2 separate regions of the Homo sapiens genome follow, and region 1 is linked to region 2. The links come from fine-mapping of genetic effects on gene expression. A gene starts in region 2. The other region holds a variant in brackets. All regions are shown on one strand. Distances are between the middles of the regions.

Evidence for each region. PIP is the estimated chance that this variant, and not a neighbour inherited with it, causes the effect.
Region 1: its variant is fine-mapped to the expression of RCAN2 in whole blood (TOPMed, PIP above 0.99).

The regions. Positions count from the first base shown.
Region 1 is chr6:46,320,403-46,330,509 of GRCh38, forward strand. The region is part of intron 2 of RCAN2 (regulator of calcineurin 2); the gene reads right to left. All of the region lies in intron 2 of LOC101926915 (a long non-coding RNA gene), which reads left to right. Among named protein-coding and RNA genes, the nearest start is that of ENPP5, 150 kb to the left of the region's middle. The variant T/C (reference allele first, on the strand shown) is at 5,479.
Region 2 is chr6:46,485,156-46,495,262 of GRCh38, forward strand. RCAN2 (regulator of calcineurin 2) reads right to left here and starts at 6,294. Exons shown (of 5, transcript NM_001251974.2): 1 at 6,018-6,294. RCAN2-DT (RCAN2 divergent transcript) reads left to right here and starts at 6,897. Exons shown (of 3, transcript NR_125837.1): 1 at 6,897-6,972. RefSeq lists an enhancer at 2,516-3,128 and silencers at 6,257-6,346, 6,857-6,916.

The sequences.
Region 1 (10,107 bases), 160 kb before region 2:
AAACAAGTGATTTGAAATGTCCAGTGGTTTGTATGACAGAGAGATTTCATTGTACTCAGTGGCCATGATGTGCTGGTCTTTTTCATAACTCACACAACAGCATAAAACAAATAGACTCTGACTCAGTCAGGTATACTATCGTGTAAAAAGAAAAATAAAATGCACAGAGCAGTAGGGGATTTTTCTCAGCATGATTATTTTGCATCCAGAAAGGCTAAGAGATTGTCCCAGGTCACATGGATTGGGAGGATGTTGAGAAATTCTCAAAAGCAGAGGAGAGAAAGTAGGATTTATGAGTGACCTTAAAAAGGCCTTGGCCTTTCAGAAGAGAAAAGAGCTGTCCTGTAGCAATCCTAAGATTCCAAGCATATGAAGAATTACTGTGCTGAAAACACACTTCTACTTGTATTTACCCTTACCCTAAGAGAGCTATTGGGCTTAAAACGTAGCATGAGGGAATTAGGTTAAGTACAGTTTTCTGAAAAAGAGTCTCCTTAAAAAAATAAATTATAGCTTGAGACAGTGACCGTCTCAATGGGTACCTAAATGAATGAATGATTGAAACAGGTTAAATAGTGCTGGTGGGGGGACTAGGTAGGAGCACATCAGATAAGATGGCTAAGATGGCCTCTCTTTCTACCTACTATTCACTCTATGTGGAATGATTTTCTCTCAGCTCTGTACATGGCTCTCTAAATTTCTTTAGATCTCTGAATGACATTGAAACAATGACATTTAATAAACTGTCACTTCCCCAGAGATGTTTCCAATGGCAATCTTTTCAAAAGTGGCCATTCCTCCCCCATCAATGCTCTATCTCTCACTCTGCTTCATTTTTGTTCATAGCCCTCATCACTAGCTGAAATTACCATGTATATTTACTTGTTTACTATTTCATTGTCTGCATCTCATGTTAGAATATATGCTCCGTGAGGGCAGGGACGTTTATCGAACTCCTAGGCCTAGAGCATTGCCTGGTAGGTAATAAATGCTCCACACATGTTTTTGAATGAATGAACAAATCTCTCAAGTGCCAAGGGTCTTTGAAGCTTCTGTATTTCTTATAAGATTTGTCATGTTTCCTGCCTGCTCTAATGAGCGGAAGGGAGCTTTGTGAATTCCTTGTGTCCTACATGGATGCCCATGGAGACAAGGCTGGAAACCTGGTACATGAATCAGAAGCCCTCCAATCTAGAGAGAAGGAACCCACCCTTTCTTCTGTGCAGGAAGCCACCATTGCAGAGAAGGGGCAGCCCCAGGTTTGGATGCCCCCTGGCAGAGTGGTGGCACTCTGCAGCTCTGAGAAGGCCCCCCACAGTGGCCAGCAGTAAAGAAGAGCATTTGCTGTTGGCTCAGAATCAGGTGAAGGAACTGCAGGTGTGGAGAACTGAAGTGTTGGGTGAGCGTCAACATTTCTGACAGCTCAGAGATACCGTTTTTAAAACTGCATACATCAAGTCTTAGCTGGGGAGATAAGGATCCAAGTGCTTAAGCAGAGCTTACTCTAGACAATTCTTGGCTGACCTCACCTGTACCTACTTGTGCCTGAAAGAGACAAGACACTGGCTTTATATGATTACCTATGCCTGGGCTCCATTCAGACCAGCCAGGTAAAAGTTCTGGGGGTGGGGCCTGGGCACATTAATATTTTTAAAAGATCTCCAGGGGACACCGATGTGCAATCAGGTTTAAGAACCACTGGACTAAAGTGAAATGTAAATTTCGTTACCAATCTCTTGGATCTCTTTCATTTTCCCAAGGGTTTGGCTCTTTGTGGAGTGGGTAGACTATTTTCAGAAATATGAGAATACTGGAGAACATCAACCCTGCACATTCACACACACAGAAATTCTGCAGTTCCCCTATAGCATTTTCTATTGAGGGCTCTCAACTTCTAGATCTTTCTGAGAACTCTCACATTGCAGAACAGACGGCTAAGTTCACAACACCACCAATGGAATTTCCAGAGAAAGCCAAATATGGCAGAATTCCATTTGTCTGATTTCCTCCTCTTTTTAGTATTATTGCTTGAGCAGCTTTGATGAAATTTAGGAAACTGGAGTCAGAAGGGCCCCTAATACAATCAGCTGAGAGCCACACTGGAGGATGAGGCTTTCTGTGTCACTATGGGAAACTAGATTTGTGGATGCTTCTACCCATTTCAAATAAACTCCCATACTTATGAAGGAGGCCTGCTGGTTGCATCCCCCTAGTATGGCTGCTTGCCCATGGGGGCTACATGTAGAAAGTGGGGATGCCTATTAAACAAACAAGACTGAGATTAAGCAAGATGGATGTAAGCAGGTGAGACAGACCCTTTCCATGTGCCTCCCTTTTCTCTGACAATAAACCTTAAAGATTTTGAAGAAGGAACTCTTGGCTCCACCAGTTATTAGTAATGAATGAAGAAGACAGATACCTTTGGGGAAGCTTTGTTTGGTGCCTAGAATTTTACGTTTGAACCTTTCTTCGTGATAAGAGTAATGGTCAGTTTTGAACAAGGAGCGCAGGTTTTCTTAACACATAACATTTGGCCCACCTTAATTTGTTCATTTTCCCCCTTTTTAATAAGCACAACGTAGATCTTTGCTTTTTAATAATGTTACTGCTTTACATTAGATGATTAAATATCAAAAATGGAAAGCCATGTTTTCTAAGTGGCTAGAGTGTTTGTGTGTATTGGGAGTGGGGTGGGAGGGAAAACATTTTCTGTGTGCTAGACTGTCATTGTAAACTCAGCTGGATTTAGGACATTCTGATAAACTGGTAAAAGTTACCTATCACTTTCAGAGAGTGCCTACAAAGATGACAATGATGACGATGGTGATAGCTAACATTTATTGAGCATTAAATAGGAGTCAGGCACTGTGTTAATTATTCTACATGTAAAATTCTCTTGTCTCTAAGCTAATAAGGTAGAAATTACTACTATTCTCACATTATATGAGAAGACTAAGGCCCAGAAAGATTAGGTAACCTTTCTAAAAAAAAAAAAAAGAAAAGAAAAAAGCCCATGATGATTCAGAGCTATTGGCAGTAAATACATGTAGCACATATTTCTGGTAACAGTCTTCCTCGAAAAACCTCATAAATTTATGAAGAACAGCATCAGCTGTTCACCATCTAGCCCTGACTCACCTCCTTTCCCGTTTGCCTCTAATCTCTCATAGAGAACCTACTGCAGTCAAAAGAATTGACTCACTAGACTGCAAAATGCTGTGCCTTCTCTCTTTCTGTATAAAATCTACCCATCTTTAAGTATCATTTTTCCATAAAACCACCCCAACCACTCACATACAACCAGCTGTAACAACTTTGTATCCTCTTAATTCCACAAAATATTCTTTGTCTTTAAAGAAACCTTCGGCAGTTGGTTATTTTTATAGCTATATCATAGATACATATGCCATATAAGCATATTTTAAACTTTTTCCTATATAAGCACAATGCCTGGCATGTTGCAGATCTCCAATAAATATTTTCTCATTATCTTTTCTGAAACGAATAAAGTTTAGAATATTTTATGACATTCTCAGGGCAAGTGTGTAAACAACAGATAACTGTTGAGGACAGAAGGGAGCTGTGAAGTTTTATTCTCCATAGATGGAATTATGTTCCAGTGGTTACTGGAAGATGTCTCTCTACCTGGTTACCCACACTGGACTTGACGCTGGCTTTAAATGACTGCTCTCCCTTCTCAAGTGCTATGGAAGTACGACTGGCAGGACTGTGGGTCTCTGCATGCATGTTTCCATTCTCAATGCAATCACAGACAGTGCCAAACCTTTATGTCCTTATTTTCTGAACCTTCATATGACAGGTGGTAGACATTTCCATGGCACTGACACAAAAATTAGTAAATACAGGGCTACATGTTTAAAATATTCAGGAACAAAATGCCAGATTATCAAATCTATTTCAAAAGATTGTTAAAGCTGCAATCTTGAATGACATAGCCATGTGCTATGCCAAGAACACATAAATCCCCACCTGTAAAGCACCAGGGTGTCACCTGCACACCCAACAATAAAGAATTCAGGGTTTTTCCTTAAGTTAAGACTAAAGCAAGGATGGTAAATGATTATGCAATGTAATTCACCTTTTATTCCTCCCACCACACAATGAACAACTGACCTTCTGTGCGTGTATATGTGTGAGTGAACTGTTTAAATAAGAAGCTTCAGCTAGTTCTTCTATTAAATATGAGAGAAAAAATAAACATTTCCATTTTGCAAGCCTGGCATCTTCTCCATAATATAAAGCCAAATGGAAAATAAAAGGGAATGAATATCATCAGAGGACGATTACCTATGACAAGTCAACAACTGCTGCCGGCAATCAGTGAGGACCAGCATGTATAATACTAAGCCTTAAGATGCGAAATATTTATGCCTAAACTTTATGAACAACTGCTCAAGGAAAATGACTTGCTTTCTTTGCCTGACAAAGAAAATTTAGGCAGCTGTTCTCCAACTTTGATTTCCAGAAAGCTGGGGACTGAAACTGCCATCTGTAGAACAGCTATTGTTTAATTTGAAGACCACATCACAGGATATTTAAGTGACATGCCAGAAAGGGTTATTGCCCCACTGTCAGGCTGGCCTGGATGCTGGGTTTATTATGTGTGCTTTCTTCATGTAATCATTGATTCAAAATCCCTCTTGACATTGAGGGCTGGAAAATTCTCCTTATTGACAAAGATACAATATGAGAATATGAAAATGTGTCTACTCAGAAAGGACTGACCAGGGATTACCTAATAAAAAAGACAAGAAGAAACAATGGCAGACCTTGTCATATTTAAAAATAATATGCTGGTCCCTCTTCCAACTTATTCTACTTAATGCAGCCATGCACTCACTACATGCATTTCTAGCGCAGACTATGAGCTGAAAACTATTAACCAAAGTCTTATTTCTTCATGCTAAAAAGGCTCTGCCAAGCAGCGTCAGTAACAGCAACAATGAAAAATAAGATTGCAGGTGCATACCTTAACCTCCTGATTGGTAAAGACCTCGACATCCACCACACAGGCAACCAGAGTGGAAACATCACAGTCCATGCTAGGGGCTGGCATTCCCCCTTCTGAATTTTTAATAAAGAGTTAGGCAACCTCAGAGTTGGGAGTGAAGGGAAGAGCTTCCAGATGGATATTGCTGTGGCCAGGCCTCGGTGCTGCCTTGCTCTGGGGACGGCTGGAGGCTCGGGCTCCTGGAGCCCGCTCCCACTGCACGCAGCCCTCCGCGTCTGAGGCAGCACAGCAGAGTAACGAACGGCCCGGCTCGCTCATGGCAATGACATCACCACAAAGACTGACACAAGCTGAAGCTATTTTTTTTTCTCCAAGCCTTTTATCTCTAGGCAGTGCAGTGGAGCAAATTGAACATGATTATGTGCTAAATCTGAACTCAGACTAAATCAATTCAAGCAGCGTTAGCTAGGAACTGAGTCATAGCTGTTGTTGCAGCCGAGTGCTTA[T/C]GTTTGCAAAAAGCAGGAGGGGGTGAATCTGACACCAGAGTTTCTTCTTTGAGGTGGGGGAGGTGTAATTCTGCAGATGAGCCTCCTGAGGTTAAGGTTTGACAATTTTCTGCCTTCGAGATGAGCAGGAAGTTGAGGCATTTTGCAAATTGCTTGGCTTCTGTTAATTGCTCTGTGCCACTCAGAGCAGCCACACATGTTCTGGGCATCCTAATGCATCCCGGGCATGGGCTGAATAGAAATCCGTTCTTGGAGTGACTAAAGAGCTGGTCGTCTGTCATTTAGGGAGCATGGTAAGAGGAGATAATTAGAGGTTTGTGGAAATTCTATTTGAAGGCTATAAGTGCAGACCAGTAACGCTAAGAGCACCCTTCCAAGCTCAGGATTTCAGGCTGTCTCCAAGGTCATTCAAACCAAAAGCAGTTCATGGAAAGGAGTTACAGCAAATATTTCACACGGGGACAGATGGCAGGGTCTAACGGGCAAACTCACTGATGTGTCTCAGAGCTTGTCAGATCCTCGGGGCTTGACTTCACCTGAGACTTTGAACACATCCTTTTGCTTTCTCAGGCTTTTTTCCTGATTATAAATCCCTGAGGGGCAAGGCCACAGATGATTTACCTTTATATCTTCAGTCTTTCACAGATTGCCTGGCACAAGAAGATGATACTTGTTTAATAAATAAATCAATCAAACAGGAATAGCCTCCTTTCACAGGAGTGACCAAAGGAAAAATTTCCAATTGTTTTTTATTTTATCATTAGTTATACAAGTCCCAGTAGAACTCACTAACATTGTAGCAGTATCTATCCTTAAGAGTTCAGTTGTATCTTCAGTGGCCACTGGAACATCCTGATTTATAACAGATTGGTACTTTTCTAACATATGACTGGACAAAAGCCTCCCAATTTTACATGCAGATGAGAAAGGTGACATTTCAGACTGAGAGTAGAAGCTTTCTCATTTGTCCTCATTGGTGTACACTTGAGTCCAATGTTCCCCTTCAACAAGGCATTTTCTATGCTAAAGGTAATCAGGCCACAAATATGGATATTTAGACTGATGAAACTGTGTGTGTGTGTCTTTGTGCATTTGTTCAAGTGGCATTTATTTCGCTGTCCAGGACACTGTGGGAAATATTAAGTCATATATGCATATAATCCAACTAATATCAAGTAATGACTATGCAAAGCTCTGCATCTGATACTCTCAAGGATAAAATGATGAAAAAGCAAATGTCACTATCATCAATGGGCTTAAAATCCAGGGGAGGAGATAAGACATGGAGACCAACATTTCACAAGGCAGGGATGGTGATGGCTGAATAGGTATAGGAAGTGTTCAGTGGGAGCACTGGAGAAAGAGCAATGAATGCTGAATGCTGGATCCCATGTTAGGATGGCAGGTGAGCATCAAAGAAGGGGAGGAAATTTCTGCTCTGACCTTGAAATACGGGAAAGATACTGGCAGACAGAGAAGTGAGGGGTGCCCTTCAGCTAGGTAAAAACAGACTAGAAATGTCCAAAGGAAAGAATAAGGCATTTGGATGCAAAACTCACTCAGGGTTAAATCTGGCTGGAGCCTGAAGTATACAAGGCAGCCGGAGCCAGATGATGCAAAACCTGGCCAACATGAAGTACCAGGCAGCTTTTGAAAAGGTAAATGGGGGATCTACCTGTACAAGTGTAGCTAAAATGTAAAGTAATACAAAGATGAATGTGATTTTGAATATCACTGGCATCTGTTCAAGAGGCAAAACAAAGAAATGAATATTTTTTCATATGCCATGGCATATCCTAAAATTTATTTTTTACATTTCACAGCATACTGGTAAATGTTTAACAATCAGCTCTCTGAAAAGAAACATTTCAATTTTTAGCATTCGTCAATTTCTATGGTGTAAATATGCTCATCATGGCTGATTTCCAGCAGTCAGTGTGAAGTCAAACTGAATACAAAGTTGGGAAGACATGCATGTAATCTGCTCACACGGGCTGTTCCAGCACATCACTGTTTCATACTCATGAAAACGTTATGCCATATCAGTGACAGTTCATCCATAGAGGCAAAGTCCACGTGTGCCCAGAGCCCATCAAGAAACAACAGCAAAGTAGAAGCAACACATTCTAATCATTGCTCTGTTTACATAAGGGGCTGTATGAATTATTTCACACTTTATGTTTAGGAAAGAGCTATAAAAGATAAACATTGCTGTGATATGCCCTGACCAGAGGACATTATCCAGGAAGCAAAGCCCTACTTGAAGTTGTAAAATAGGCAGTTTTTTTTTTCTGATGTATCCTCAGCTTTCCCTTTCTAATTTGATTCTGCCCTACAGATTCCTTCCTGCTATCCAAGCACCCACTAACTTTATGCTTTCCTCTTTTAAAATATCTTTTCAAGGACAGTTGTCAACTCATCTGTATAAGCATTAAATGACTGATAACTCATAGTATTATCCCTCCCAGAGGAATACATATTTTAATAAGAGACAGAGTCTTAAGTTGGGCAAATTGTGTTTTTAGGGCAGAGTTCTAGGCATCAAGAGCAGATGATTTGTGGGGCAAAGGAACTTTCCAGTAACTCTGAACTAAAATTAGTGGGTTTTAAACCCCCAACTTATTGGGTTTTTAATAGTCATTCGTCTATACAATATGGTCATTTTCCTATTGGCTAGAGAGCCCAGGAGGCTCTCCTGTTATAACAGTGTCCTGTTTCTCTAGAGTTTTGTTTGTTTGTTTGTTTGTTTGAGATACAGTCTCATTCTATCACCAGGCTGGAGTGCAGTGGCACGATCTCAGCTCACTGCAACCACCACCTCCTGGGTTCAAATGATTCTCCTGCCTCAGCTTCCCTAGTAGCTGGGACTACAGGCACGGGCCACCACGCCCAGCTAATTTTTGTATTTTTAGAAGAGATGGGGTTTCACCATGTTGGCCAGGAGGGTCTCAATCTCTTGACCTCATGATCCGCCCACGCTGGCCTCCCAAAGTGCTGGGATTCCAGGCTTGAACCACCACCCCTAGCCGAGAATGTGTTTTTTTATAGCTAGGGGCTGACTTGCAGCCTTGGAGGTGTCTAGAATATAGATACACTTTGGCCAATGGCTACAAGGCCTTGTAAACACTAGACTTGGATTATTCTCCCACTTCATCTCATATCATTCTCACCTTTCTTCACTCCTCTTGTTCCAGCCCAATTGGCCTTATTGGTGTTCCAAAAAAAAAGAAAGAAACAAAGGAAAAACTTCCAAGCTCATTCCCATCTCAGGCCCTTTGCACTTGCTATTCCCTCTCTCTGAAAATATTCAGATCTCTTCATGGCTTGCTCCTTCTTATCATCTGGATCTCCGCTCAGATCACATCTCTTTGGAAAAGTATTCCCCAATCAGCTAAAATAAAAATTGTGTGCACATTTTTACACACACAGAGTCAATCACTATCCTGGCATCTTCATTTTAACTTTCTTCACAGCACTTTTCACTACCTGAAATTATTCTGTTCATTTATTTCTTTATGTGTCCACTGCTTGTCCTCACAACTAGAATTTAATCTCCATAAAAGCAGAGATTTTTGCCTATTCTGCTCCCTGCTTATTCCCAGGGGCTAGAAGGATGCCTGACACTTAGGAGTTACTCTAATAAACATCTGAAAGATGAATGGATAAATACACAAATGAATCTAAAAAGGCAAGTAGAGAGACTCAAACCAATAGAGGTGCCTCCTAGATCCAGGAGTTGCAGGGAGGCTTTTGCAGAAGGGCTGCAAAGGCATGGTGAGTTCGGTGATAACCTCTCATCTCTGAGAGCTGAGTCCTGGCTTAGCTCTGTTCAGGAGTGTCCTTTCCAGCTGAAGTGGCCAGAAAACCTTGGGATTCATCCAAACCACTGCTCTTGCAATGACCGATCACACTGAGGAAAGGATGCATTATGCACAGACCCCTTGGACAGAGGCCATTGCCCTCCCTTCAGTTCAGGCAATTCTCTAAAAGGATGGACAGCTGAGCTGATACACTCACCTCCATCTCAGCAGGAGGAGATGCACACCTTCCAATCCCAGAGGAAGCTGTGGTAGCAGCAGCCAAGCCTGTTTGGCTAATGAGCATAGAAGTTCCCATTACAGCTATGGGTTGTCAAAGGCTCTGCTCCTTCTGTATGGCCTTCTGGATCATCTGTTTTTTAAATGTTTATTATGGAGAATTTCAAATATATTCAGCAGAAGACAGAATATAATAATGAGCCTTCATGTATCCACCACCCAGGTGCAAGAATAATTAACAAGGGGCCAATCTTGCTTCCTCTCTGCTAGTCACTCTCAGAGTGTGGTCCCCAGACCAACAGCATCAACATCACTAGTGAGCTTATTAGAAGGGCAGATTCTCGGGCCCCACCCAAGACTGAATCAGACACTCTGGAGGGAAGACCAGTATCTGTATTTTAATAAGCCCTCCAGGTGATTCTGATGCAAGCTCAAGCCTGAAAACCACAGCTCCACGTCTTCACCCACTTCCATACTCACTCCAGATTATTTTGCAGCAGGTGCCTGGCATCATATCATTTCATTTATAAATATTTCAGTATATATCCCTAAAAGACAAAGGATTCCTCTTTTGAAATCACAATACGTACCA
Region 2 (10,107 bases):
ATATATGATATCTTAAATAATTGGGAACAATCTGAATGTTCAACAATAGAGGAAAGCGTAAATGAATTACGATAAAATTATGCGTGGAAATGCTATGCAGCTAATGAGAAAAATATTCAAAAAGATTATTGGCTTCATATGAAAGTTATTTTAAATTTTCAGTGAAATGCACAGAATGCAAAATTCTGTACACAGTTATAATTCCATTTCTATAAAAATATGCATATAAAAAGTGAAAAGTACATCAATATGTTTATAGTAATTGTCAATTGCTCATGGTAATATGTGTTATTTTAATTCTCTCTTTTTATACTTTCCTGTGTTTTCCAAAGTTTTTCTAGAAAGCACATATGTCCAAGAAAAAAAACAAAACATTAAAACTTCAGGGCAGAGGGTCCCTGTTTTCCTGCTGAGTGGACATGCCTCAGCAGACAGTGGAAAATATTTCTAGCCTTCATGAGCAGACTCCATGTTCTGCCTGTCACTCACGCTTGATGTAAACCCTGATGATGACTCCTTCTTGCACTCCACATCATGCCTATCCTTTCCTCAACCTTGGCTTTGACTTTCACCCTTCTCTGTTTATACTAAAACACCCCTCTGGCAGTACCTCTTCTCTTCAAACCACAGTCTCCTTCCCCCTTCACCAGCTGGACCCAGTTCCATGTCCTGATCAGCTCTGGCCTGACCTGACCCACATTGGTACTGACAACAAATAAGTTACCCCCCCAAAAAACAAGCTATTTGTACCAAAGAACAGGGCAAGGAAATACAACATTCTTAATGCATTATATAAATGTATTTTATATGCATTGGACATCTTTCTTCTCACAGCCATGGTACTATACCAGGCCCACCTATAATTGATTTCTTGTTATTAGTAGGTCCCTATTGTGACAATCATCCTCAACATCTGTGCAGAGCATTCCATTTTTCTGTGCACATTCACAAACTCATAGTACATCACCCTCACACCTTTGTAAAGTGGGGAGATAAGGTATTATTTTCCTAATTGTACAGATAAGAAAACTGCAACTCAGAGAACCGGCACTGAGTGGCTTATTCCCCCTGATCCTCAGGGTGTGCTTTTCTGTAAATAGTGATGATAATACCCACCTTGTGGAGTTGTTGTAAGGATTAAATGAGATAACGTATGTAGCATGCTGAGCAAAGCATCTGGAACAGGGGCAGCATTCAACAAATGCCAGTTCCTATGACTGTTAGGTCAATGGGAAGCTCAAGGTCACATAGCAGGGAAATGACAGCACCAGGATTGAGATCCAGGCTTTTTCATGCCAAGTCCATGTTCTTTATACTTCATTCCCAACACTGTATGAGAAGTACTAAGGCATGGCCCGAGTCTTCAGAGAAATTATAATATTTTGGAACAGGCAAATCTCAGTTACATGATATAATAAAGCAATTATTCCCACAAAGAACTAAGAAACAGTGATAAAATCTAGGACCGTGTTCTAAAATAATACATTTTTTTGGTCCAATAGCTACCATTACAATGTCTTTTTATGCATACATTCCAAAGCTTAGGATTCCAAAATTTTATCCCTTGTCTTGCAGTAAGTTGAATATAGAAGATCAGATATGAAAATAAGGCTGTTTCCATCCATACTATAAAAAATATTTTCTGTGGGCATTCTGAACTGCAGGGAGTTTGAATTGTATTTGGAAGCATTTCTTTAACTTCTGGAAAGTACCATTCATGGTCACTCACTTTATCATTTTTAAGGGATTTTTGAAGTTTCCATTGAGTTTAAAGCTGCTTCCATCTTTAAAAATATTCCTCAACTAATTAATTTAACTTACAATATATGACACCTAGAGTTGGTAACAAGTGAAAAGACACAAGAACAGTGAACACTTTACAGGCAGAGGCAGAAAATTCTTCAGGAAGACAAAGCACATATCTGTGCACAGACACACACAGAACAGAAAATCATTCTGTCCCCTCTCTATTCTATGCCATAATAATAGAATCCAGTATGACCAACCTTGGCAATACTATTTCTTTATTTACAGCAACATTGGCCTCCTTATAAGCTGGCAAAAGAAGAATTGAAAACTCTGTGTTGTGGAATGTTGACGCTTCTTTATCTCTAAGAAGGTAACCTATTAATGAATACTTCAGAGATGCACATTTTGGAAGTTATTTAATGTGCTGTGTGTTTTTATACTACCAACATACACTTCTTTCTTAGATAAATAGATGATACTCAACTAAGAGGTGGCCCCTATCAAAGCTATGAAGTAGGAAACTTTGTCTTCAGAAACACTCTACCTTTCCCTTTCTACATGTCGTTTACCCTGGCGGCAAAGGGTGGGACCTCCATTTCCTGAGCACCTTCACTGAGACGGACTTGTATGTGGTGCCTGGTTTATAGTACTGCTTCAATCCTCACAATAATCTCACAATATGTGCATTAATTGCCCCAGTTTCTCAGACATGAGGAAACTCTCATAGAGTTAAAGCAACATGTCTAAAGAAAAGAAACTGGTAAGTGACCATGGAGATTCCTCTACTTTAGTGCCCAGGCAGGCAGGGTTCCCCTTCCAGGACCATGCTTCCCCAACCTCAGGCACTCCCATTAGCTCTGTAAAATGGATCAGTTCACACCAAACTATTAAGGAGAAGCCACCATTTGTGTTAATCCTCTTTGAAGTATTTCTATCCTCTAAGTGACCAGACAGGTACGACCTTAACCCAAACCAATGGTTCTAGTAGCAGAGAATTTGAGAAAGCAAACAGCAAGACTTCAGAATGTCACACTCCCTAGAGAGCATCTAACCGACCTCTTGTTCCATGAATATACAGATTTAAAATAACAAAAGCCTGAGATGGGATGTGACTTTGCAAACATCACACAGCAAATCAGGTGTAGAGCCCAGTCAAAAGCCAGGACTCCTGACTCAGTCCAGTTCTCTTTTGTGGCATCAGCCAAAAATATCCAAACCTAGGGCAAAAAACACATTCCAGGATAAAAAAGAATTATTTTAATGCTATTAATTCACATTGGTAATTCAGAATGCTGGTCAGAGCCTGGGCTTCAATTCTAGGTGCACGTCTTACAAACTGTGTGACCCACGCAAGATATCCTCTCTTTGCCTTGGTTTTCTTGTCAGTCATCTGAGAATAACAACAGTGCCTGCCTCATAAGGTTAGTGGGAAGATCAGATGTGATAAACCAGGTACAGTTCTAACTTCCTTGTGTTCAGTATGTAGTAAGCACTGAATAAATGTTAGATATTATCATTATCATTATTATCACTGTTACCACTAGTAGTAGTTCAAATAACTGAGTTCATACTACCACTTTTGGGGATAAAGGTAGAAACAACTTCCTGCTATTAAGTTTGTCTCTCCTTCTTCTCTAAAAGCAACCTTACACAGTCTCAGAAATGAAGAGAAGTAAGATCAGTAGAAGGTTAGCACCAGAAATGAAGAAATTACATTTGAAAATAAAAGTGCCTACTGAACATTTTCATTTGGTTGTTCAAAATAAAAATTCTCCATCTTTCTCAAGTCTCCTCTTATTTACTCCCTCAGTTAAAAGCCTGACCATCCTCTAGACATCTAAGCTTCTCCTTCCATACCACCATCCACTTGGTGACCAATGCTACCGATCCTCCCCCTGAAATGGCTCTGTATAGATCTCTTCTCTTTCCTCCAGGCCATCTGGTTCAGGCACATTTCATAAGTTTTCTGGTTTTTGTTTTGTTTTGGTCTGTGCCACTCCAATGGTCTAAAGTCTCCTCATTCCTTTTTGCAACCCCACCTCCTCACACCTCCACAGTCACTTTTGCAAAATGTAAGTTAGATGAAATCATTCCTACCATTAAGGGCCACATGGTTTCTCCTCCTTAGCAGGGTATATTCACAATCCAGCTTCAGTGAAACCTTTCTAAACATTCCTGTCTTCCCTCAGAACATGTAGGTGTCCTCTGAATGTGACCTTTCTGCCATGTGTGTATGCTGTTCCTTCAGTGTGGAATACCCAGCCCCTTCTCTAGACAACTCCTACCACCTATTGGGATCCAGACCAAATGTAAACTCTTCTTTAAACTCTTCCAGATTCCCTCCACTCTTTCTTCTGTTGGCTCCCATTAAACTTGTTTCTGTCTTCATTAAACACTCATGATGTTGAATCATTACCATTTATTTTCTTCTCCTTTTCTGCTAAATTGATTTCTGGGAGGCATGGGCCTCATTCTTTTAGCCTCTGGCACAGGACCTACAAAGCACACAGGAGGTGCTCAACAAATAATTATTGAATTGATCGAGTGGATGCTACAGAACGTAAAATAGGAAAATGAGACCTCGGTGATTGTCAATGTTAGTCTCAATAAAAAGAATTTGTGATATGTATGACTGTCTGCAAATGATTACACAAGTGGTTTTTAACACCGTGATGTGCACTTACAAATGAGAAAGCTCTCGAGTTCCCACTTCTGTCTGTTACACGTTCATCACTGGAGAAAGAGTCATGCCCTCCCAAATTTAGGTGAGTTCTGGAGGACCTGCACACACTAAGCATTTTGAGAGCTCTCAGAATCATGTAGCTTTAGATGAGAACACTTTTCCCTCACAAAATTCTATGGACTGGACTCAGGTAGTAGATGCTCAGTAAATGCTGATTTGATTTGCAGTGGATTTGAATGCAAAGTGCAACTCACATTTTAGACTAATTGAACTCAATGGCTGATCATACTTAATATAATAGCTCTAAGGCTAAAGAAAATCAATGACTACACTGAAAAGCAGCCAAATGCTCACTCTCCTGCCTAGTTGACAGTCAATGCTGACCTGCCTCTTGATCCTTTCCAGCTTTTGGGTATTTCCAACTTCACTGTGCCCCCAGAATGCAGAGGCCGGTTAGCAAGTGTTGCGTGGTACCTTGTGGTACATTTGTTCTTCGTTTTGAAGTGATGTAATAAAGGATAACAAAGGTGTGAAACTTGAGTTGCACTGTTAAAGTTGTCCTACATTTCCTAAAGCCTCCCCTCTGCATGATAAGTTGAGTGAAATTCTGGCTGAAGGGAGAGAGAAGTGTGAGCTGGAATGCTGTGACATCCCTTCATCTCCAATTGTGGAAAACTGTGGGAATGCATATTAAAGGAACCCCAGAAACTTTTGTTTTTACTAAACTGAGACTTAAAAAAACTTCATTTGGCAGTTGAACACCTCTATCCCATTGTAAGAAACAGGAAAGATTCAAAGCATGCATTCTGCTATAATTCATTTTGGGATAAGAAATAGGCAGAAGTACCTCGAAGAATAAATCATTAACTAAAAGGCAAACCGAGGCACCCTGGAAACCAGCGAGACCTGGAGGCGGCCGAGGGATCAGGCGGCTGGGATTTGCCTGTTCCCTCTGGTGACTTCTGGAGCGAAGCATCCCACAGGCAGGACGAACCCGGCACACTGCGCTCCGCTCCATTTCACTTTTCAAACTTGAAGTTATTTTTAGATGACCCAAGGCCGCTAATCCCAAGCAGGACAATTCTCAGCCCGCTGCACCTCAGTGCACCTACCCCCTCCCCAGCCTCTGCATTGGGAAGAAGGGATCTCTCGATCTTCTTTGCTCTCTGCATCCAGTTAGTCTCTTCTAGACCCTCTCTAAGCCTCAGTCCCGGGGATCACAGGCGTCATCCTCGCTCCTTCACTTATGCACCTGCTGCTGCTTCCAGGAAGGCAAACCCCCGGGCCACGGGCAGTGGGGAAGGGGCTCCTTTGGACCCGCGCCCCCTAGAGGGGGGTCGCGGGAGATCTCCGTCCCCACGGCCGCAGCCGGGACTGACCACAGATCTGGAGACAAACCCCACCCCCGCCACTGCCCCCACCCCCGCCACCGCCCCCGCCCCCGCCCCCGCCCCCGCCCTGCACCCAGACCCGGCCCGGAGACCAGATCCCCGCCGCGGACCCCCGGCACGACCCCGGGGCTGCTGTCAGCCCCGGCGGGACGGGGTGCCTGGGCGAGCCTGGCCGGCGCGGTTACATAACCGACCTGCTGGGCGTCCGCGATGCGCCGGCGGAGGCGGAGGCGGAGGCGGCGGCTGGGGCGTCTACGGGGGCCAGCTGCTAGCGCGCGGCGCTGCCTGCTCACCTGCCCGCCGGTGCGAGCGCGTGGGGGCGGCGCGGTGCCCGCGGGCCTTTGCGTGGGGCCGTACGCGGCGCGGCGCGCCCCGCCTCCCTCTCTCTGCCGCCGTGGGTCAGTGGGATTCTGCCTGCTGCCCGCTCCTCCCCGCAACCTCCGCCGCCGTCACCCGGGACAAAGCGGCTCCAGGGAGGGGCTGAGCCGGCGGCTCTCGCAGGAGCCGGCGGAGATGGGCGCGTCCCCAGCTCCGACTCATCGGGCCAACCTCCAATCAGACCCAGGGAAACCGAAAGCCCCTGTCTGGCCTCTTCTCATCTCCTCCCTCCTGACCCGGCGCCCTCCCCAGTCCCCTACCCACCGCACCTCCGGGGCTCTCACCCTGCCCTCAGCCCCGCACCCCCTCCTTTCCACTTCAGGTGCCCGGGAGGGCGCAGGAGCCTCCGGGCACCTGGCGTGGGAGCCTGGCTGCAGGAGTCCCGGCCTCAGCGGGAAGAGGCTCCTCGGGGTCCCATACTAAGCTGAGGGTGAGGGGGCAGCGACAGCCCAGAAGAAATGGTCAGAGAAGCAAACTGTGGTGGGGGAGTACTGGGAGAAAGACTCTTCTTACCAGATGTCTGAGCCCCCCGACTCTGGCTAACTGAGGAAATGTCGGGGAGCCCCTGGATGGTCCTCCCGGGCTTCTGCGCTTGGTGGGCGCTGGCGCCCTCTGGCTGGAGCCCTGCGCCCGGCCCAGCCCAGGCCGCTGAGGGTGCCCTGCGCGGGCTTCACAGCTTTGCCAGGATTTGCAGCCATCAGACCTGAGGACAGAAGGGTTCGGGCTGCAAGGAATCCTATTGTGTGAGAGCCATGACACAGTGAGTGGGAGGTTGGTATCCTACAGCAAACGGGACTGAAGGTGAATCGCAATCTAGGGTAGATCTGTTGCTCAACAAAGTTAACCCCAGTAGAAGTCTCTGCTTTACGGAATAAAGCAACTCAAATGGGTAAGGAAGCCTGTGGCTTACGGGTGGCACAGATAGGAACAGGACTGAGTCTCATGGCAAGAGAATGTGAATTATGCAAAAGATCATAGGAGAGTGCGGGAAATTAAAGGAAGGAGGTGTGCAGACCAATCTGAGGGAGGGAGTGAATAACATTTAAATCAGGTTTGTGTTCTGTCATCTTTCGAATTGCTGCATAAATAAGCCGTTTTCTTTTTGCTTTTTATGCCTTTTGATTTTCTGATAACAATATTACGATTGCACTGAAGCAGTCCATTCACAATCATTCTTCACTTACCCACACTACGTTGTTTTTTTCCAAAGTTGACATACAATCACGTTTTGTTTGTTTTCAACAAAAAAAGGTAGACGAGACGTTGGCTCTTCTCTCTGATTAATCTGCATTAACATAAACACAATTTCAGAATTGAAAATGACCTTAGGCTTCCCCTCGTTCAGCCTTCCCCTGGATGCATAAATCTGTAATTAGTCGTTGATTTAGATAATTGCCATTTGGGTTAGAATTGTCTGAAAGGGCATTCTTAAGTTGAGCAAAAACTTGCCTCCCTTTAATCATTAGTTCTCCCTTACTTTTTGAAGCCAAAGAAACCAAGTCAAATTCCTCTTCTAACTATCTTTAAAATATGTAAAAATAGCTAGCATGTCTAATGCACTCCAGGATCCCCTTTCTTTCCAAGTAAAGCATCCCCAACCCTTTAAACAAAATCTCACTTATTATTAGTGAGTACTTCCTAGAATCTTCGTCAAACTGATGACTTTCATCTTAACAGGGACTATTTATTATTTTGTGAATATACATTTACAAATAAAATTTTCAGCTTATAGAAGCAATATATTCATTGCAGAAATTTTGAAAAGTTGGAAAAACACAGGATTTAATCTGAGAACTAAATGAGGTAATACATGTAAAACACCTAAGCACAGTGCCTGGCACACAGTGATACTCAATATATGTTAGCTGTTACCAAAATCAACATAGCCATTTTCCTAACACCAAATATAGATATTGTTACTTTTCTAGATGCTGTTTCTGAGTTCTCATAGCCACATATTCCTCCTTCTACTGCTAAGAGAAATTCTGTGTTTGTCAGTTTGTGTGAAGAAGGAAGCATAATAAATGAGGAAAAAAATGAAAAGTGACAAACAGCCTCATGTTGTTTACCTTGAGAAGAACAAAATGTTACTAGCAAAACAAATGTTAATGGCAAGAAGAAAATACAGAGAGAAAAAGAGTTTATGGGATGGGGTCTGAGCTTGAAGAGGATTTTGGAGAGCAGGAGTGAGGCTAAAGGGTAGCTAATGTTAAGGATGGTGGTAAATAAGATCAGAATTTTGGTTTGCTAACATTTATTGAGCATTTAGTATATGCCACGCTCCAAGCCAATGAATTTTTATACATTAATTCATTTCACTTTCATGGCAACTCTATTAGATAGGTACTATAATTAACCTATAGTAAAGAAAGCACAGAAAGATTAAATAAATGACTTGCTGAAGCTAACAAGTGGAAAGCTGAATTCACACCTAGACAACCTGGCTTTGGAGTCCCCACTAGACTAGACTGCCTCTCAATGGTTGTATGTGACATTATAAATATAAACTTTTAGGTTCACAGGAAAGTTGAGCAGAAAGAACAGAAAACTCCCATATACTGCCTGCCCCCACATATGCATAGTCTCCCTGACTATCAAAGTCTGACACAGGAGTAATACAATGAATAAAGCTACATGAACACAACATTATCAACCAAAGTCCGTAGTTTACAGATCCACTCTTGGTGGTGTACTTTTTTGAGTTTAGACAAGTGTATAATGACCTATATCCACCATTATAGTTTCACACAGAATAGCTTCACTGCCTTAAAACTCCTCTGTGCTCTGCCTATTCATTCTATCCTCCCCACTAAGCTCTGGCAACCACTGAATTTCTAATTGTCCCCATAGTTTTGCCTTTTCCAGAATGTCATATAAGTGAATGTCATTTCAGATTGGCTTCTTTCACTTAATATGGATGTAAGTTTCCCTGTCTTTTCATGGCTCAAATAACTCATTTCTTTTTAGCACTGAATAATATTTCATTGTCTGGATATACCACAGTTTATTTGTTCATTCACCTGTTGGAGGACAACTTGATTGCTTCCAAGTTTTGACAATAAGTAAAAAGTTGCTCTAAGTATTCATGTGCAAGTTTTTGTGTGAATGTAAGCTTTCAACTTGTTTGGGTAAATATCAAAGAGTGTGATTGATAGATCATATAGTAGGTTTAATTTTGTAAGAAACTGACAAACTCTGCTGAAGGGGCTATACCATTTTGCATTGCCACCAGCAATGAATGAGACTTCCTGTTACTCCACATCCTCACCAGCATTTGGTGTTGACAGTGTTTGGGATTTCCACCATTCTAATTGGCATCTCATTATTTTGATTTGTAGCTGCCTATTGACATGATGTTGAGAATTTTTATATGCTTATTTGCCATTTGTCAAACTTATATGCTTAAAGCCATTTGCGGTGCCTTATTTGCCATCTTCTTTGGTGAGGCGTCAGTTCAGATCTTTTGCCCATTTTTTAATCAGATTATTTTCTTATGTTGCTTTTCTTGTTTTCTATTGGTAAGAGTTATTTTTGTATTTTGAATAAGAGTTCTTTATTAGATATGTCTTTTATAAATATTTTCTCCTACCTGGTACTTGTCTTCTCATTCTCTTGACAGTGTCTTTCGCAGAGCAGTTTTTAGTTATTTACTTATTATTTTTTTGAGGTGGAATCTCGCTTTGTCACCCAGGCTGGAGTGCAGTGGCATGATCTTGGCTCACTGCAACCTCCGCCTTCTGGGTTCAAGCAATTCTTCTGCCTCAGCCTCCCAAGTAGCTGGGACTACAGGCACGCACCACTGCGCCTGGCTAATTTTTGTATTTTTAGTAGAGACAATGTTCCACCATATTGGCAAGGCTGGTCTTGAACTCCTGACCTCGTGGTTCACCCGCCTCAGCCTCCCAA